2 separate regions of the Homo sapiens genome follow, and region 1 is linked to region 2. Evidence: fine-mapped QTL for protein levels in blood plasma. Region 2 holds a variant in brackets. A gene starts in the other region. All regions are shown on their reverse strands.

What was found. PIP is the chance, under the fine-mapping model, that this variant and not a neighbour inherited with it causes the effect. Protein levels are from antibody-based Olink assays in UK Biobank. Linkage for the fine-mapping came from a reference panel and not from the study's own genotypes, which makes the PIPs less certain.
Region 1: it holds the start of ICA1, and the variant in region 2 is fine-mapped to the plasma level of the ICA1 protein (UK Biobank, PIP 0.91).

Annotation. Positions count from the first base shown.
Region 1 is chr7:8,254,452-8,262,451 of GRCh38, reverse strand. ICA1 (islet cell autoantigen 1) reads left to right here and starts at 285. Exons shown (of 14, transcript NM_001136020.3): 1 at 285-358. It overlaps ICA1-AS1 (ICA1 antisense RNA 1), which reads right to left and starts at 227. Exons shown (of 6, transcript NR_125740.1): 1 at 33-227.
Region 2 is chr22:38,056,788-38,066,818 of GRCh38, reverse strand. PICK1 (protein interacting with PRKCA 1) reads right to left here and starts at 9,415. Exons shown (of 13, transcript NM_012407.4): 1 at 9,232-9,415; 2 at 8,969-9,066; 3 at 7,474-7,585; 4 at 1,689-1,817. The coding sequence starts at 9,009. RefSeq lists enhancers at 8,714-9,337, 9,582-9,641, 9,338-9,963. The variant T/C (reference allele first, on the strand shown) is at 6,228.

The DNA of each region.
Region 1 (8,000 bases), not on the chromosome of region 2:
TCCCCAAGCAAGGTGAGGTCAACGCCACCCACCTTCCCCCGGTCACCCTGGGAGGGGTCGCTCCGGCGGGCGTCTGCTGGAGGGTAGAAGCGGGGAAGGGAGGCAGCGGCGGCGCCCAGGCGGCGGTAGGTAGCCGGGCGGCGAGGGCGCCCGCACCCCCCGGCCGCTGCGCTGCGCTGCGGTGCGCACGGGCTCCGCCGGTTGCTATTCCGGCTGGTGGCGGCCGCCGCAGGAAGGGCCGGTTCCTGCGCTCCCCCCGCCCCTTTCCCTCGCCTTCGGCTGACGCTGACGTCGGATGAGTGATCCGGAGGGACGCTCCGACCGCGGCCGGGAGGCTCCTGGGGGCCGGGGCTCCGAGGTACCTGCCCTCCGGGGTCGGGGCGGGGGCGCGCCGGGCGGGCTGCAGGAAGCAGCAGGAGACGCCCGGCAGCCGGGACGGTCGGGGACGCCTGGTAGGAGCTGCCTTCTCTGCCCTCCGCGGGCGGCGCGTGATAGGCGAGTCGCCTCCTCGGGTCCCGGATCCCGGTGCGGGAACCGCATCAGCCCCTTCCCCTCCCCTCCTCCCTCCGGCCTGGGAAGGTCTGGAGGATGCGCGCGCCGTGAGAGCGTGCGTCAGCCCCGGGGGAGCGGTAGGGAAGCGTTCCGCGCTCCGGCCCCAGCGCTGGGAGCACCGGCACCCATGCCAGCCCACCCCACCCACCCACCGCGCGCCTCGCCTTCCCGGCGGCTCCGGCCCCAGGACCCCGAGCTCCCTGGTGGGCAGGGACTTGCGTCCAGGGTTGACTTGTTGACAAGTTCACCTGCCGCGGCGCCTGGTGTGTGCTTTTTCTCTTCCCCTCCGTGGCCCTTTTTTTGGCAGGGGCGGCAGAGAGCATATGGGTACCTCTTTATAACCACTAGTGCCAGGAGGCCTGAGCTTGGTCCCCCGGGGGCGAGGTGCTCAGCAGTCTCGGACTAGACGGGGCGAGAACCCCTAAGCAACCCCGGTTCCAGCAAACCCTGGCGCGCCCGTTTCCTTTGGGCGCTGCTGACTCCGCCTTTCCTGCTCCGGGGCTATTGCAGCTCCTGCTTCCTCTAGAAACGAACATATCCTGTTGTTATGTCTGCCTTTCCCCCAAAGCGGCTCTCCAGGAACCTTTCCCACTGTCTTTTTACTTGTAGTACCCCCAAAGCACCTGAGCTTCTCTTTGGGGTCTTAAAAGTATCGCGCCCTTATTCTGGCGAAGGGCATTAACTGCCTGGTTGGGGAGAGTTAGTTTGGAAAGAATCGCGTTCTCTTCATTTAGATGGCATTAAAAAATTAGCGCAAGAAAGGGTTTTGTTCATGAATCTTAGTAACCGAGATCTGGTAACGGTATAAAAATTATCAAGGCCTGGAAAATATGTCACCAGCTTGCTTGGGAGTGATACTGAATGTAGGAAGAAAGACACATAAGGCATTTATTGGCCATTAAGGTCCTATAAAATATGACTCATCGCAAACATGTTTTTGTCCATACGTTTCAGTGAAGTCTCTTCGGAAAATCTCAAATTGGTTTCTGTGGCCCTCTGGTTTGAATCTGAGATCTGAACTGTTCTGTGGTTAGGGAGTGAAATAAGAAATGCTTAGTTTGAAATCTAGGCTCCCGATGCAATTTCATACCCCCTGTTTAAAACACACACTCTCTAAAAATGCTTTTAAGTAAGTTTTCAAACCAAAGATATATTTTTAGATTTCAGTCTTTATTTTTGAAACACCCTTTGTAGAGAATACCACAGGGACAAAATCAATTTATAATCCTGAATAGCTCAAATATCACTCTTTGGTTTTATACTAATACTGTACATACATCTTAATTGCAGGAGATGTTGCTTTCTAATTGTTTCTGTTTGTATTACAAAGGGAAATAATTGTACTGTTTATAAAGATGAATCTTTAGAAAACGTAACAGTTAAGCTACAGCGGGCTATTTGTGGAGAGACCTGATGTTAAAAAACGTTAACCCTGTATCCTCCACCCGTGGATCATTGAGTGCTAAAGATACTGGATGGTAATTGCCTGGGTGGTTTATTTTGTAACTATTTTCCCCCATTTGGAACACCTGAGTAACTATCTGACTGCTTTCTCTACGCATCTTTACCGCAGTGCATAAAGATCAATCTCACGAAAAGTATAGAAAATTTTGTTACTCAGAGCCTTCAAAATCAGTACGTTTTCAAGGTATTTGACTAAATAGTACATTTTTTTCAGGTGCAAGCAGCATTAGCGGTATGGAGGTCTGGTAGTTATGCCATAACGTAGAAGGATAAACCTATGTTTGGTATGAACTTTTAAGATTATAGAAACCTCATGCGAGAGAGGGAGGAAGTTAACAGGCCCCAAGTGTCAGGATGAATTTTTCCTCTTCGTTGGTTGAGCCTGAGGGTAGGTGGCAGTGTTTATAATCAGCACGCTGGTCACTAGTGTCCTTTTTTTCCATCTGCATTACTAGATTTATGGGAACCATTAATAAGGATGCTATCTGCATGTTTTGTCCATGAGGCAACATAGATCACTAATGAATCTTATCCCCCAACCCCACCACCATTCGCAATCTGCCTCAGCAGAACTTTAAACTCAAAAAACACTTTTCCCCCGCTTTTTTCTTGATTCCCAAGCTGATACATTTCGTATCACAATCATATCTAACACTCTGAGGGAGTATGGAGGACTCATGGGCTTTGGATCCTGATGGAGCAAAATCAGAATCCCTGCGGTAACACCTAACTAGCCGTGTGACCTTGACCAAGTTACTTAAGTCACCATTTCCTTATCTACAGAACAGGAATATCCACCTTTTTAGGGGCAGGGTGGAGATTAGAGATAATGTATATAAAATGCTTTGCACGCTTTTAAATAGGACTCACTCAGTAGTAATAAATTATTTTTTCACATGCTAAACATATGCTATCCGTATCTAAAAAGAATGCTGCTGCTTTGCCTGTGATAGGAAGTGTATTTCAATTTGGTTTTGAGTAGTTCAAATAATTTTGTACCAATACTAAGACCCTGGGCTTTATGGAAAACACTCTCTGAAGTTGGGGGGTGCAACCAGAAACAAAACAAATCTAATTTGTTCCAGTGGGGATAGATCTTCCAAGCCCCTGTCACTCAAACGTGGTCCATGGACCAGTAGCATGTGGCCTCCCCTGGGAGCTTATTAGAAATGCAAAATCTTAGCGTGCCTGCTACTCTCTTCCAGACCCAGTGAATTCAAATCTCCATTTTAACAAGATCTCCATGAGTATGTTAACATTTGAGAAGCAATGCTGTAACCTGTTATTTCTCAAACTTTAGTGTCCCAGAGAATCATTTGGGGGCTTGTTAAAATAAGTGTGGATTCCCGGTCAAGCTTCCTTCATCTGCTGTTAAGCAACATCTCAGGTAGCTCTGATCCCTAGGGTCTCCCACAGACTGTCCAGCACACTACTCTAAAATGAGCCTCTGTCCTCTTCCTTCACAAAGCACTTTGGCAACTATGATCTTATGTGATACTCAACCCCCTTTGAGATAAGTAGATATTATAATCTCCATCTGTCTGATAAGGACTGCAGGCATGATTTGCCCTGGATAGATGCATATGGTAGAACTGCCTTGGAGCCTCTAAAAATCCTGGCTGACCACACTTTCACTATTCTAGCAATTTACTATTTAGTATTATAGCATCAAATTAACATAGTTTTTGTTTTTTGACCTGTAAGTAATTTTCACAAATAACTAATGAATCTCTCCAGGACAGGGAAGACTACATGTGATAGGGCATTTTATACCTGTTTTTATAACAAAGCCTGCCTACTATGTGACTGTAGGCCAGTTGCTTAAGATAACTGAACTTAAACTTCTTCGTGAAATGAATATAAATCATTATGTCAACTTGGCCGTATTGCGAGGATACTCCGTGATGTGGGTGAAGCATACACCCCAGTGTCTGAGAAGTGGCAGTTCCTCAATTAGTGGTAACTCCTTGTCCCAGTGTAAACCTAGTGAGCTAGAATGAGTTCATGAAAAGGTGGGGAAATGATGGCCTGCATCACTCATGATGGGAATCATCTGTCTCTCTTGCTAAGTCAGATGACATCATCCATCAGGCCTTTGACCAAATCAGAGAAGTGGGATGACTTAGTATTGAACAAGCATTGGTTGTATATGTGCCATGAGCTACACACTGTGCTAAACACTCAGAATCCCAAGACTCAGACCCCACCATGCTCTGGAGGAGCGTACAGCTGAGTAAAAGAGGGAAAGAGAGGAGTCAACTAACCAATTGCCTTTCAGGGAAAGCAAGAAGGAGATAGAGACACAGGTGGTAATGCAGCCCAGGGCGGGGGCATCCCACCCCAACAGGAGAAAGGGCAGAGAAACCCTGAGATGCTTCATGGAGGAGATTGCCCTTGAGTTGAGCCTGAAACAACCAGTAGGAATTCAGCAGGTAAATAAGGGTTGGGAGTGGGGAGAAAGAGCGTTCCCCACTCCCAACCATGTGTATGTGTGTACAAAAGTCAACAAGTAAGGGAGAGAATGCTAATACAAATAGTCCTCGTGTCTGGAGCCCAGTGTCTATGTGTGTCCCTTACTAGCTGAGTGGCCTTGGACAAGTCTGATCATCTGTGATTCAGGAGGATTAGATGCACTAATTAGTGTAAGCACAGGACTGATTCTAAATATTCGTTGCATGGTTGTGGAGGTGGTGGAGGTATTAGTAGAAAATAGGGGACTAATATTAAAAAGTCATTAGAATCAGAGAACATTGCAGAGTTCAATTTTAGAATACATTTAGCAGAAAATACATGAATTAAGAGAGGGTGACTGAATGCAATATAGTTCTGTGGAGTGGAAAATATGAGGTATATGTGTTCAGTGATGGACCACTGAATATATAGATAGTAGTCATTGTTAATTTTAAGAGTCTAGATTGGAGACTAGAAAGGTCCTCTGGTTCTAGTTAGTGAAAGTATTTGTACAAGAAGTGACTCTTAAGTATTGCAACAATGTTCCAAGAGTATACATATTGAAATCCATCTCTTACCATCATCATGATCACACTCACTGCCACATCTCTGTTCCCAGAACAGGGCATAGACATCAGTTTCTGAAACCTAATAGTACCTAGGGGAAAATCCGGTCTTCTCTGTGATATTTCCAGGGTAGAGCATTCTAAGCCAGAAACCAAGAAGCTGATATTTATAAATAGTGCCCCTCTCCTTAGTCATAGGAACCCTGACAACTATCAAGGAAGAAATCAATCAGCAATTGCAGGTTTTGTTGTGCACAGTAGCACTATATTGGCAGTGGATTTGGGCCTAACCCAGCACCTAAGCCTGTGATTGGGGGAGATTGTTTTTATTGAAACAGCCCCATTAATCAAGCTCCTTTCATCCAAGAGTAGAGCAGAGTAGTTAAAAACAGGAGCTCAGAAGTCAAAAGTAAACTTGTGTTTACCAGTTGTTGACTTTGGGTAAATTACTTCGTCCTTCTAAACTTTGTTTCTCACTTGCAAAATGGGTTGATATCCCCTTCATAATGTGTGGCGATGACATAATGATGTTAAGTGCTTCACACATGTAAAGTGCTTGGTAAGTGGTAGAACATAATTATTGCCCCTTGCCCAGCACATATGTACTGAATGGCTACTGTGCTCCAGGGGCCATGCTTGGTGCTAAGGAGGCAAAGATGAACTTGAGGGTCCCTGTACTCATGGGACCTACAGTCTAGTGCAGGAGATACAGATGTAATTAGCTCCTTGAAGGAGAGTACAGGAGTGCAGTGGCACCACCAGTATGGAGCAGTTAACTCTTCAGTGGGGAGGTCTGGAGTGCAAGACCCATGGGGAGAGGGATAGAGACGAGATGTTGAGTTGGGAATACTTCACTGAAGAGGCAACATTTGAGGAGAGTCTTGATGTAAATTCTAAGTTAGGCAATCAGACAAAGGAGGGGGAGGGCATTCCAAGTGGAAAGAATCATCTCAAGTCCTTGAAGTGCATAGTATATTCAGGGAAGCTCAAGCGTTCTGACATGCGCAGAGGGAATAGTTCTATCGGAGGGTGGGGAGGAGAGTAAGATTTGGGGGGAAGGGAGCCAGGATGTAAAGGGGCCTGTGTTTTTTCAAAAAATGTTTGGAATTTCTCTAGTGGCAAGAGAAAGCAATTAAAACATTTTAAGTAGGAGAGTGGAAAAATTTGATTTGCATCATATAGTGATAGGTCGGGCAGTGTTGTAAAGATTGGAATGGACAGGTACACAGATAGCATTGCCTCTTAAGGCCTAAGCTGTGAAGATAGAAAAGATAAGATGCATTCAATCGCTTTTTAAGAGGTAGAATGGAGAGAACCTGGAGACTGGTTGCAAAAGATGAAAGAGGCTGGGTGTGGTGGCTCATGTCTGTGATCCTAGCACTTTGGGAGACCAGGGCAAGAGGATTGCTTGAACTCAAGTGTTTGAGACCAGCCTGGGCAACATAGTGAGAACTCATCTCTACCAACAATTTAAAAAATTAGCTGGGTGTGGTGGTATGTGCCTGTAGTCCCAGCTACTTGGTAGGCTAAGTAAGAGGATTGCTTGAGCCCAGCAGGTCAGGGCTGCAGTGAGTCATGATTGTGCCACTGCACTCCAGCCTGGGCAACAGAGCAAGACCCTGCCAAAAAAAAAAAAAAAGAGAAAGAAGTGAGGTTTTCAACTTAGGCCATTCAGTACATTTAGTGCTGGTAATTAACATAGGGACCACAGAAAGAAGAATTTGAGAGTGCAGATGGAAAGAGGAGTTTAGTTTTAGATGTGCTGAATTTGAAGTGCCTGTGGAACAATCCAGGTGAAGATTACCATCTGGAGGTGGAAATGTGGATCTGGTGCCCTGGAGAGGTGTGTGATTTTGGAAGTTGTTGGCATACAGCTGGCAGTTGAAGCCATGGAAGTGGCCTCACCTAATGAGAAATCACCTAATGAGAGCAAGTAAAGTTCCAAGCTTGGAACCTTACAGATACTGATATTTGAGATGCAGACACAGAGGAAAAGAAGCTAGCAAAGAAAATTGAAAAGATAGAAAAGTGTGGAGAATATTTCCTGAAAAGTAGAGGAAGAGGAGCATTTCAAGAAAGGAAGAGAACGTGGTCAAAAGTCATGAGAAATGAGGACTTGAGTGGGGCCCATAGTGAAAGATGTTCTCTGGGCTGGTGGAGAAAGGAACCAGAGAGCATGGGCTTAGAACTCTTGACTGTGAAGAGAAGGAAGAGGATGGGAACTGAGAAAGAGTTTGAAGAATGAGGCCTGATGGTAGAAGCCAAGGGAGGTTGATTAACATGAAAGAGAAGAGACAGAAAGATGGACTAAGGTGGGCAGGGGTAAGAGTGTAGGAGCTGTCCTTCCTAGGGAGAAGGAAGCGAACAGCAGGTTGTGGTCATGATTCTGGATAGCTCCAAAGAAGTGAGCAGGGGTGCACAGAGAGTGGAAACTGTGACAGAAGGTGCCCAGCGCAGTGCCAAGGCCATGGTTCCCCAGAGTGCGTGAAGAGGGAGACTGCCTGTCACCACCCTGCAGGGTTTTCTTCCCACTGCTCCCTGAAGGCCAGGAGCTAAGTGTCCTGGTGCCTAATGCTGTTGACTCAGTGTTGCCATTTGCAGCATTGGCATCATTGTGAAGTATGTAAACATTGTGTTGTGTTTGTGCTAAGCCACTCCCCACTTTCTGCTTCCTGTTTCTCTCTTCTCTGCACTCCTAACCTGGAACTCAGTACCTTCAAGCAACTTTCTGGGTTTTCTACCTGGTCTGCCCTAGAGGGTACATGCCCAATATCCCTGTCTTTCCTGACCCCCATCAAAATAACCAGTCTTGTGCTTTATAAGCTCTGGGCTTTGCTGCTGTTTATTTCCTGAGAAAGTAGAGAGAACCTGAAAAAGGGATCTTTATTAGTTCTCAAATAACGCCAACTAGATGACCCAGCAGACGCAAGTGTGGTGCTGTTAGCTGAGCATACATGATCATATAGT
Region 2 (10,031 bases):
TCACTCTCATCCTTGCAAACCAAAAGCCCTTGAACTTGGGACCACATTCATCCAAATATAAAACAGGATTTTAAAATCAAGTCCCAAAGGGAAACCAAAATGAGCAGATGCAATCAGAGTCAGAGGTGGGGTGTGAACTGCTCCCGCAGAATGAAACACAGGCGTGCTCAGGGGCCACCCCACAGGGAGCAGCTGTAGGCCAACGGCAAGCGGGCTGCAGTGGGAGTCGGGCCCGGGCTCCAGTTCAGCTGTGTGACCACAAGCAGGTCACTCCCCGCCTGTGGACACCTGTAAGATGGGAGAGTAATCCCTGCCCAGCACCCAAACAGGGGAGCTGGGCCAATGCTGCATCCCTGTCATGGCTGTGTGCAAATACAAAGAGCTCTTGTCCTCATGGGCAACCTGAGGTGCTGGTATGACCAAGCCTGAGAGGACAGGGAGGGACCTGGCGAGTGGAGATGGGGAGGAGATGCGGAGGGGGGAAGGGCTGCCAAATGGGGCACACACAACCCAACTCGGCCAGAACGAGACCCCCTGCACCTGTTCCCATGATCAGCTCCTCTGCCTAACAGGTCATACCTGAGGCAGTGATACCCAGACCACGTGGAGTGGCAGCTGTGGGGTCTCAATGAACCTTGCTGCTTCCTTTTTTTACAACAGAGCTCTGAGCCCCAGCCCCAGGCCCTGATTTGTCCTATGGCTAAAGGGGCTGGAATAGGAGAATGTGCAGGATGGGACTCTTCCTACAGCAAGGAAGGAGAGAAGCACGGACTACTCAGGAGCAGGACAGGAGGATAAAGGGGAGAGAGGATGGAGCAGCGGCTGGCCTGGGTTAAGGCAGGAAGGCGGACTATCAGGAGTGCCAGAACCCGGAGGATGGAAGTGGGGCTGAGGGAGGTAGCTGCCACCCTTGGCCAAGCTGAACTCACAGTGGGGACCCTTGCCCCCGAGACTTTCAAATCACCCCATGGCTGTGCACTGCCTGCACATCAGTTCTTTCACAGTATTGGTTTCCTGAGACTAGCTAGCAGCCACTTCGCTAGGAAATGGCAAAGGGGCTGCATGCTCGCTTCAGGAGAGGCCGGGATGCCGCCTGCCATTCCAGTCCTGGAGCGGCAGGGGTGGGGGAAAGCGGGGCAGGCAGTGTGTGACTCTGGTCTGTAGAGCAGAAGATCAGCTGGCCTGGGAGGGGGGTCTCTGGGTGTCTATGAGCCCAGGAGGCTGTGTGGGACCGAAAGTTCCTACAGGATGGGGAAAGGGCACTCTTCTTTCCCTCCTAGCCCTCACAGGCCCAGCGTGACCCGGCTGACATTATTGGGTGTCTACTGACCCAGGGAGGATCACCTTGGACTTTTAGCTTCAGCTCTGGCACTGACTGGGGACACATGGGCTTGCCTGAGGGGTGGTTCCAAGTCTGTCAGCTCCCTGGGAGCTCATGGGGACCTTGTGGTCTTGCTGCCCACTCTCTTGCCAAGGTTCAGCACAAGTCCTGGAGCACGATTAGTATTTATTGAATGAATGAGGGATGGATGAGGGAGGCTGGAGTGTGACCCTGACCCTGCACATGACAAGGAAGGGGGCGGTGAGGGCTGATACCCCCTTCCAGGCCTGCTGGGACCTCTGGCAGCCTGGAGGTCTCAGAAACATGTGTTGCTGCCTCTGGACACCTGCTCTGCAGCAGCCCTTACCTTCACCTCCTGAATCATCTTCGCCACCTCCACCTTAGTTTTCCCTTTGATTGACCTGCCATTGACACCGGTGATCTCATCGCCAGCTGCCACTGTGCCGTCCAAGGCTGCTGGGGTGTTGTCAAATACCTGTGGGTGCATAAGGAGAGTGGTGGGGGAAGAAAGGGAGGGCTAAGATGGAACCTGGGAAGACACCTGACCACTGCCTGGCTCTGTCTTCCACTCTACCCTCTGCTCTCGTTTTTTGAGAAAGCGTCTCACCACCCGGGCTGGAGTGCAGTGGCGTGATCACAGCTCACTGTGGCACTGAACTCCTGGGCTCCAGCAATTCTCCTGCCTCAAATACATAGTCAAATGATTTCTTTTTTTTGAGTCGGCGTTTCGCTCTTGTTGCCCAGGCTGGAGTGCAATAGCGCCATCTCGCTCACCGCAACCTCCGCCTCCCGGGTTCAAGCAATTCTCCTGCCTCAGCCTCCCGAGTAGCTGGGGTTACAGGCATGCGCTACCACGCCCGGCTAATTTCGTATCTTTAGTAGAGACAGGGTTTCTCCATGTTGGTCAGGCTGGTCTCAAACTCCCGACCTCAGGTGATCCACCTGCTTTGGCCTCCCAAAGTGCTGGGATTACAGGTGTGAGCCACCGTGCCCGGCGGCATCAAATGATTTTTGACAAGGGTGTCAAGAACATTCAATGGGGAAGGACAGTCATTTCAACAATGGTATGTGAAAAATGAAGTTGACACTACTTAACACCACATACAAAAATTAACTCAAGGCCAGGCGCAGTGGCTCACACCTGTAATTCCAACACTCTGGGAGGCCAAGGCAGGCAGATCACCTGAGGTCAGGAATTCGAGAGTAACCTGGCCAACATGGCGAAACCCCATCTCTACTAAAAATACAAAAATTAGCTGGGCATGGTGGCAGGCGCCTGCAGTCCCAGCTACTCAGAAGGCTGAGGCAGGAGAATCGCTTGAACCTGGGAAGTGGAGGTTGTAGTAAGCCGAGATCATGTCACTGCACTCCAGCCTGAGCAACAGAACGAGACTCTGTCTCGAAGATAATAATAATAATAATAATTAACTCAAAATTGTTCAAAGACCTAAATGTAAAAGTTAAAACTATAAAACTCAGAAAAATGCCTAGTCCAAAACCTTCACGACATTGGAGTTTACAGTAATTTCTTGGATGTGACACCTAAGATCCAAGTAACAAAAAATAAACAAATTGAACTTCATAAAAATTTTAAAACTGGTGCATCAAAATACACCATCCAGTCTGGGCAATGTGGCAAAACCTTGTCTCTACAAAAAACACGAAAATTAGCTGGGCATGGTGGTGTACGCCTGTAGTCCCAGCTACTTGGGAGGCTGAGGTGGGAGGATCGCTTGAGCCTGGGAAACAGAGGCTGCAGTGAGCTGAGATCCCGTCACTGTACTCCAGCTTGGGCAACAGAGTGAGACACTGTCTCGAAAAAAAAAAAAAAAAAGAACAGAGAAGAGAAGAAAAGAAAGGCAACCCACAGAATGGGAGAAAATATTTGCAAATCACATTTTTGATAAGGGATTAATATCCAGAATATATGCAGAATTCCTAAAACTCTTTTTTCTTTTTTTCCTCTTAGCCGATTGTGCTTTGTAGAGAATTCTTAAAACTCAACAACAAAAACCAAACAACCTAATTCAAAAATAGACCAAGGGCTGGGCACGGTGGTGCGCACCTGTAATCCCAGCATTTTGGGAAACCGAGGTGGGAAGATCGCCTGGGCAATATGGCAAAACTCTGTCTCTACAAAAAAAATACAAAAATGAGCCAGGCATGGTGGCGCGTGCCTGTAGTCCCAGCTACTCGGGGGTCTGAGGTGGGAGGATCGCTTGAGCCCAGGAGGTTGAGGCTGCAGTGAGCCATGATCGCACCCCTGCACTCCAGCCTGGGCGACAGAGCAAGATCCTGTCTCAAAAAAAAAAAAAGTTAAGATGGTAAATTTTACCACAATAAAAAAATAGAAAAAAGCAGAACAGAGAATACAGAAAGCAGGATGTCATCATCGAGATACATGACAAGAAGGACATGGTGTTCCCGATGACGCCCTCTGAGGATCTGGCACAATAAACAAAAGCCTGTGCCTGCAGCTACCATCACGACTCCTCCCAACACCAGGGACAAAAACAAAGTCCTCAAAGTTCTCACAGATCAGAAATAAAACACATCACAAATAAAGGATCACCAATAAGAATGGCAATAGCCATGTGACAGCAAAGGACAATGTGACAAGGCCATCACACTTCCACACAGGAATTACTGTCAACCTTGACGTTCATTCTTGAATCGAATGAGCCAAAATGTCAACTGAAAGGAATATGGGAACCACAATGACCAAAAAAGACAGACCCGAGGTCTCAAAAAATTGACATCCCACGTGCCCTTTCTCAGAAAGCTACAGGAGGATATTCTCCACGGGAGATCAGGGAGTAAACCAGGAAAGGGACCCCCAAGATGGGGGAATCCAAAGAGAAGGGGCAGGGGCAGGGGGAGGGCACAAGGGGGAGAGACTACAGGGCGGAAAACAGACTGAAGAAAATGGGGCCGGGCATGGTGGCTCACGCCTGTAATCCCAGCACTTTGGGAGGTCGAGGCAGGTGGATCACTTGAAGTCAGGAGTTCGAGACCAGCCTGACCAACATGGTGAAACCCCGTCTCTACTAAAAATACAAGAATTAGCCAGGCGTGGTGGCACGTGCCTGTAATCCCAGCTACTTCGGAGGCTGAGGCAGGGGAATCACTTGAACCCGGGGGCTGGAGGTTGCAGTGAGCCAAGATCACGCCATTGCACTCCAGCCTGGCAACAGAGCAAGACTTAATTTAAAAAAAAAAAAAAAAAGATGGGAAATTGTGGAAAACATACTGAGAAAACAAGGAGAGTGCAAATGAAAAAAACAAAACAGGAAATTACCCCCACCCTCTCAAAACACAAGAACAGGCTGAATTAAGAAAAGAAACATAGATTCCTCAGAAAGTTAAACATAGAGTTGTTTTGACTAGAATGAGGGCTCCGCAAGAGTAGGATCTTTGCTTTCTTATTCTTTTATCCCTAGTGCCTACAACAGAGCCTAGGAGGCATCTGGAAAAGATTTCCCGAACAAAATCTCCGTTGTACTAATATTAATTTAGCCAAAAATAGAAAAATAACTATGTTGGAAAGGTGGGATGAGAGGAAACAGACTGGTCATGGGAAGAACTAAATTCTCATCTACCAGACGAGGCAAAGTCAATAGATATTTACAGGTGATAGATCAAGAAACAACAGGATAGGCTGAGCACGGTGGCTCACGCCTGTAATCCCAGCACTTTGGGAGGCTGAGGCGGGTGGATCACTTGAACCCAAGAGTTTGAGACAAGCCTGGGCAACATGGCAAAACACCGTCTCTACAAAAAATACACAAAAATTAGCCAGGTTTGGTGGCACGTGCCTGTAATCCCAGCTACTTGGAGGCTCAAGTGGGAGAATCATCTGAGTCTGGGGAAATCAAGGCTGCAGTGACCCATGCTTGCACCACTGCACTCCAGCCTGGGCGACAGAGTGAGACTATTGAGAAAAATGGAAGCCCATGCATGAAGAGACAGAGAAAGCCGGGTGAGGTGCCCAGGGGAAGGGCAGTGGATTGCTATTATTTGATACAGGGCTTTTAATGCTCTTGACTTGGTAGAGGCAAGTCATATGGCACTTTGATAAAAACAAAATTGAATTTAAAAAAATCAATTCTATGATGATGATGATTATTATTATTTTTGAGACGGAGTCTCACTCAACTGCCCAGGCTGGAGTGCAATGGCACGATCTCGGCTTACTGCAACCACCATCTCCCGGGTTCAAGCGATTCTCCTGTCTCAGCCTCCCAAGTAGCTGGGATTACAGGAACCCGCCATCATGCCTGGCTAATTTTTGTATTTTAGTAGAGACAGGGTTTCACCATGTTGGCCAAGCTTGTCTGGAAGTTTTCACCTCAGGTGATCTGCCCACCTCAGCCTCCCAAAGTGCTGGGATTACAGGTGTGAGCCACCGCACCCGGCCAGTTCTATTATTTTATTGGCTGGTGGTTCATGCCTGTAATCCTAGCACTTTGGGAGGCTGAGGTGGGTGGATCGCTTGAGGCCAGGAGTTCGAGACCAGGCCGGCCAACATAGCTAAAACCTCTCTCTCCTACAAATACGAAAATTAGCTGGGCATGATGGCGCACACCTGTAATACCAGCTACTCGGGAGGCTGAGGCATGAGAATCGTTTGAATCCAGGAGGCAGAGGTTGCAGTGAGCTGAGATCACGCCACTGCACTCCAGCCTGGGCAACACAGTGAGACTCTGTCTCAAAAAAAAAAAAAAATCAATTATACTATTTTATGATGTCTGTTCATTCTAAGCAAACTTGCACCTGAGGTAGGTAGAGGGAGGTGGCGAGAGGCTGAGCAGACACACGGCCAGGAGGCCAGGCCTGGGGGAGGTCTTGCTAATGCCTCCTGGGTCACAGGAGGCCGAATGGCTCA[T/C]GAAGGAGGCAGCACTGTGAGCAGAAGCAAGACCAGGTCGATCCTGGGAATCTGTCTTCGAGGCCTACAAGCGACTCCTGAGCAAGATCCTCACAGAGGCCAGTTTCCCATCTGCCACCAGTGAGAGGGTTAGAACAGGTATTCCCAAGGCTACAGCAAGGTCACTGACTTGGATGAGCCACACAGTGAAGGAGGCCCCACAGCAGGCCTGTCACCACTCCTGAGTTACAGTGGACAGAATATCACCAGTGCAGCTTCCTCTGCAAGAGACACAAGAGTGTTCCTCACCACTGGCAGAGCATCTGGGAAAATGTACAGCTACCTGGAAAATAGCAGCAGCTACTGCTTAATGCATGGTTCTTTCTTTTTTTTGAAACAGGGTCTCACTCGGTCACCCAGGCTGGAATGCACGGAATGCAGTGGCGTGATCTCAGCTCACTGCAACCTCTACTTTCCAGGTTCAAGCGATTCTCCTACTTCAGCCTCCCAAGTAGCTGGAAGTACAGGCGTGCACCACCACGCCCAGCTAATTTTTGTATTTTAGTAGAGACGGGGTTTCACCATGTTGGCCAGGCTGGTCTCGAACTCCTGACCTCGTGATCCACCCACCTCGGCCTCCCAAAGTGCTGGGATTACAGGTGTGAGCCACTATGCCTGGCCAATGCACGTTTCTTAACTTCTAGTGTGTTAGGTCGTTTTGTTGACTTCTCACAAGAACCCAGAGATGATTGTGTCTACATGTTTTAAATCCCCGCTTTCTAGGTGATGAAACTGAGGCCCAAAGAGGTTAAGTAACTTGCTAGTAAGTAGGAAAGAAGCTTGCATTTGAACTCAGGCCATTATTTCATCGTGTTCCTATGACACTTCATTTTGGCTAGTACGCAAGGCTGATGGTTTTGTTGATTCAATAGTCAATTTCTATTGCATGTCCACTATGTGCCAGGCACTGTACCTGGTGCTTACTGCAGTGAAAAAGCAAACCAGGACACTGCCCTCAGTGCAAAGAGTCTACTCTACTAGACAGAGGGCAAATAACAAGTAATAAGTGCCGAGAAGGAAAAAAACAGAGCGACACAGGGGAGAAGACAGGGCAGAGCAACGCAGCGCAGGTGGTCAGAAAGCCCCTCTGAGAGGGTCAGACCTCAAGAATGAGAAGGAGTCAGCTATGCAGTGTGGAGAAATGAACCTGCCTTTGTCATGCCCAAGTAGGGATGTACCTTGTGCCCCCCTCCAAAGCGCCCAATACCTGGACGATATAGAGGCAGGGACAGTACTGGGCCCCTCCTCCAATGCTGATCCCGATCAGGTTCTGAGCATCCTTCTGCAGGGTCACCTTCCCAGGCACAGTCGGGATTCCGCTAGAAAGGAAAGCAAGCTAGGCTGACTCTCCTGGCAGAAGGATGACTGGAGCGGGTGGGCCCTCTAAAACTCCTGAGGGGCTCCACTGGCTGCCCAGCTTTTTCTCTCCCTCCCTTGGACAAAACAACATTTTGTGCTGGAACATGCACAGCTCTTGGAGTTAAGCAGATGTGGGATCAAACCCCAGCTCTGCCATTTATCAGCTGTGGAACTTGGTTTTTTTTTGAGATGGAGTCTTACTCTTGTTGCCCAGGCTAGAGTGCAATGGCGCAATCTCGGCTCACTGCAACCTCCGCCTCCCGGGTTCAAGTGATTCTCCTGCCTCAGTCGCCCAAGTAGCTGGGACTACAGGTGCCTGCCACCACGCCTGGCTGATTTTTTTGTATTTTTAGTAGAGACGGGGTTTCACCATGTTGGCCAGGCTGGTCTTGAACTCCTGACCTCAGTTGATCCGCCTGCCTCAGCCTCCCAAAGTGCTGGGATTACAGGCGTGAGCCACCGTGCCTGGCCAGCTATGGGACTTGGGTAAGTCAGCCTCTGTGCATCTCAATTTCCTCATCCATAAAATGTGGATGAGCACCCTTATCAGAGTTCTTCTAACCATGCATGGAGGGCACTAACAGCAACCCAGTCCATAGCAGGCACTCCATAAAAATAGGTCCCCCTTCCCTTTCATTTATTCGATCTCTGAGATTTGAGCCAGGTTCTGTCCTTGTCACCTTATCAGGCATCTATGTAGTATGATGGCCACCTACTCCAGGGAGTCTTCCTCTATTAAACTGTCCACCTCCCACCTCTCAACTGCTCGATTACCTCTCGGTTTCCACTATAAATTAGCATTGACTGGTGTTTTATGATAAGTACTCACGCTGATTCACTTATTCATTCAAAAAACATTCGCTAACAACCTACTGACGTCAAGTCCCTTACTAAGTGCTGAGCATAGAGAAAGGCATTGCACCCACTCCTTGATCTGAAAGAGGATATATTCTAATGGGAAAATCTGTCCTACTAACAACCTATGTTGGGAAGGAAGGGTGTCTACAATATTCCTATTCAACCTTCAAAACCTGGTTCAATTGCTACGTCCTCCATGAAGCTTTCCTTGACCATCCCAGCAGAAGCACTGCTCCATCTGCTTTGCTCTTCTTGTCACCAAGTCATGCTAATAGTGCCCTTATGGCACTGAGCTGTGATTATCCCTTTAACTGTCCACAGCCCCCTACAAATAGTGAGCTCCTGGGAGAGCAGGGTCCATTGCTGCTTCAGTACAACAACTGATCCACCGCTGAGAAGCAAGGGTCTGTGGGACTGGGAAGTCCAGGGAAATGAGGAACTTGGGGCTCCTATACTGCTGGAACTTGGGGGAATAAAATACTCACAGTTTATCCTCTTCGATGTCATAATCCAAGTCTGCAAACATGGTTCCGAGAGTTGGAGTGGGCTGGCTAACTGCCCAGCTCGGTAGGGGAATGGGGAACTGGATCCGGGAGAGAAAGGAGCATAGGATTTAAGGAACCCAAGTGCCTAAATGCCAACGCCACCCCTCCCTCCACCACCTCATACGGGACAGCAGTGCCCTCCTCTTCCCTCTGGAGTGGGATGGGACAGTCTCCGGGTGGGGGGCTGGGTAGGTGATTCTTACTAGGTACAAAGGGGGGCTCCAGGCCAGGGCGATAGGCTCAGATCCCAGAGTCCGCCCCACGGGTCTCCAGGCCCTGGGGAGCTGCCTCTGTCGCTCACCGGAAGCGTTGGTCCCACAGCCGGGTCCCGGCCAGGCTGGTACCTGAACCCACCTGCCGTTCCACCTGGCGGTGGCCGCGATTGTCACGTCACTTCCGGCAAGACGCGGAAGTCCCGGCTTTCCCCCCACTGGATATTTGCTCCAATCCCTGCAGACAATCCTTCCCTTCCCGGCTCCCGGGACGCTCGGAACCAAGAACGAGAACAAGTATTGGCGGAAGCTCGCTGTTAGTAGGAACAAGCGAAAACAGAGGAACGGTCTGGACAGGCTGACAGCGTCTAACCCCGCCCTTTGCCCTGCCGCCGCCGCCATCTTGGGAAGGGCAGGGTTTGTCCCAGCTTCCTCAGCTGCACTCAGGGGCCCGCGCCGGCCCGGCGGTTGCCATGGCAACGAAAGCATCCCTGAGCCGGGGTTACCTCCGGCGAGGCTCAGTGGACTATAAACCCCAAGACATCATGCCCTTTCACCCCTTCACCACCTGGGCCTGTGACTCCCCTACTAGAATGGCCCTTTGAGGTCCCAGCCCATCCCAGTTTCGCCAACTTAAGTGCCAAAGAGCGGGGAGTGATTTTGTGCGGGGCCACACACAGTTGGTGTAAGATCTGGATCGTGGCCCTGAAACTCCCGCCGCCTAGTCTAGGGATCTTTGAACGTCCAAACACTAAACAGAGAGCCAGGAGAGGTGTATTCAGTGGGTCTTG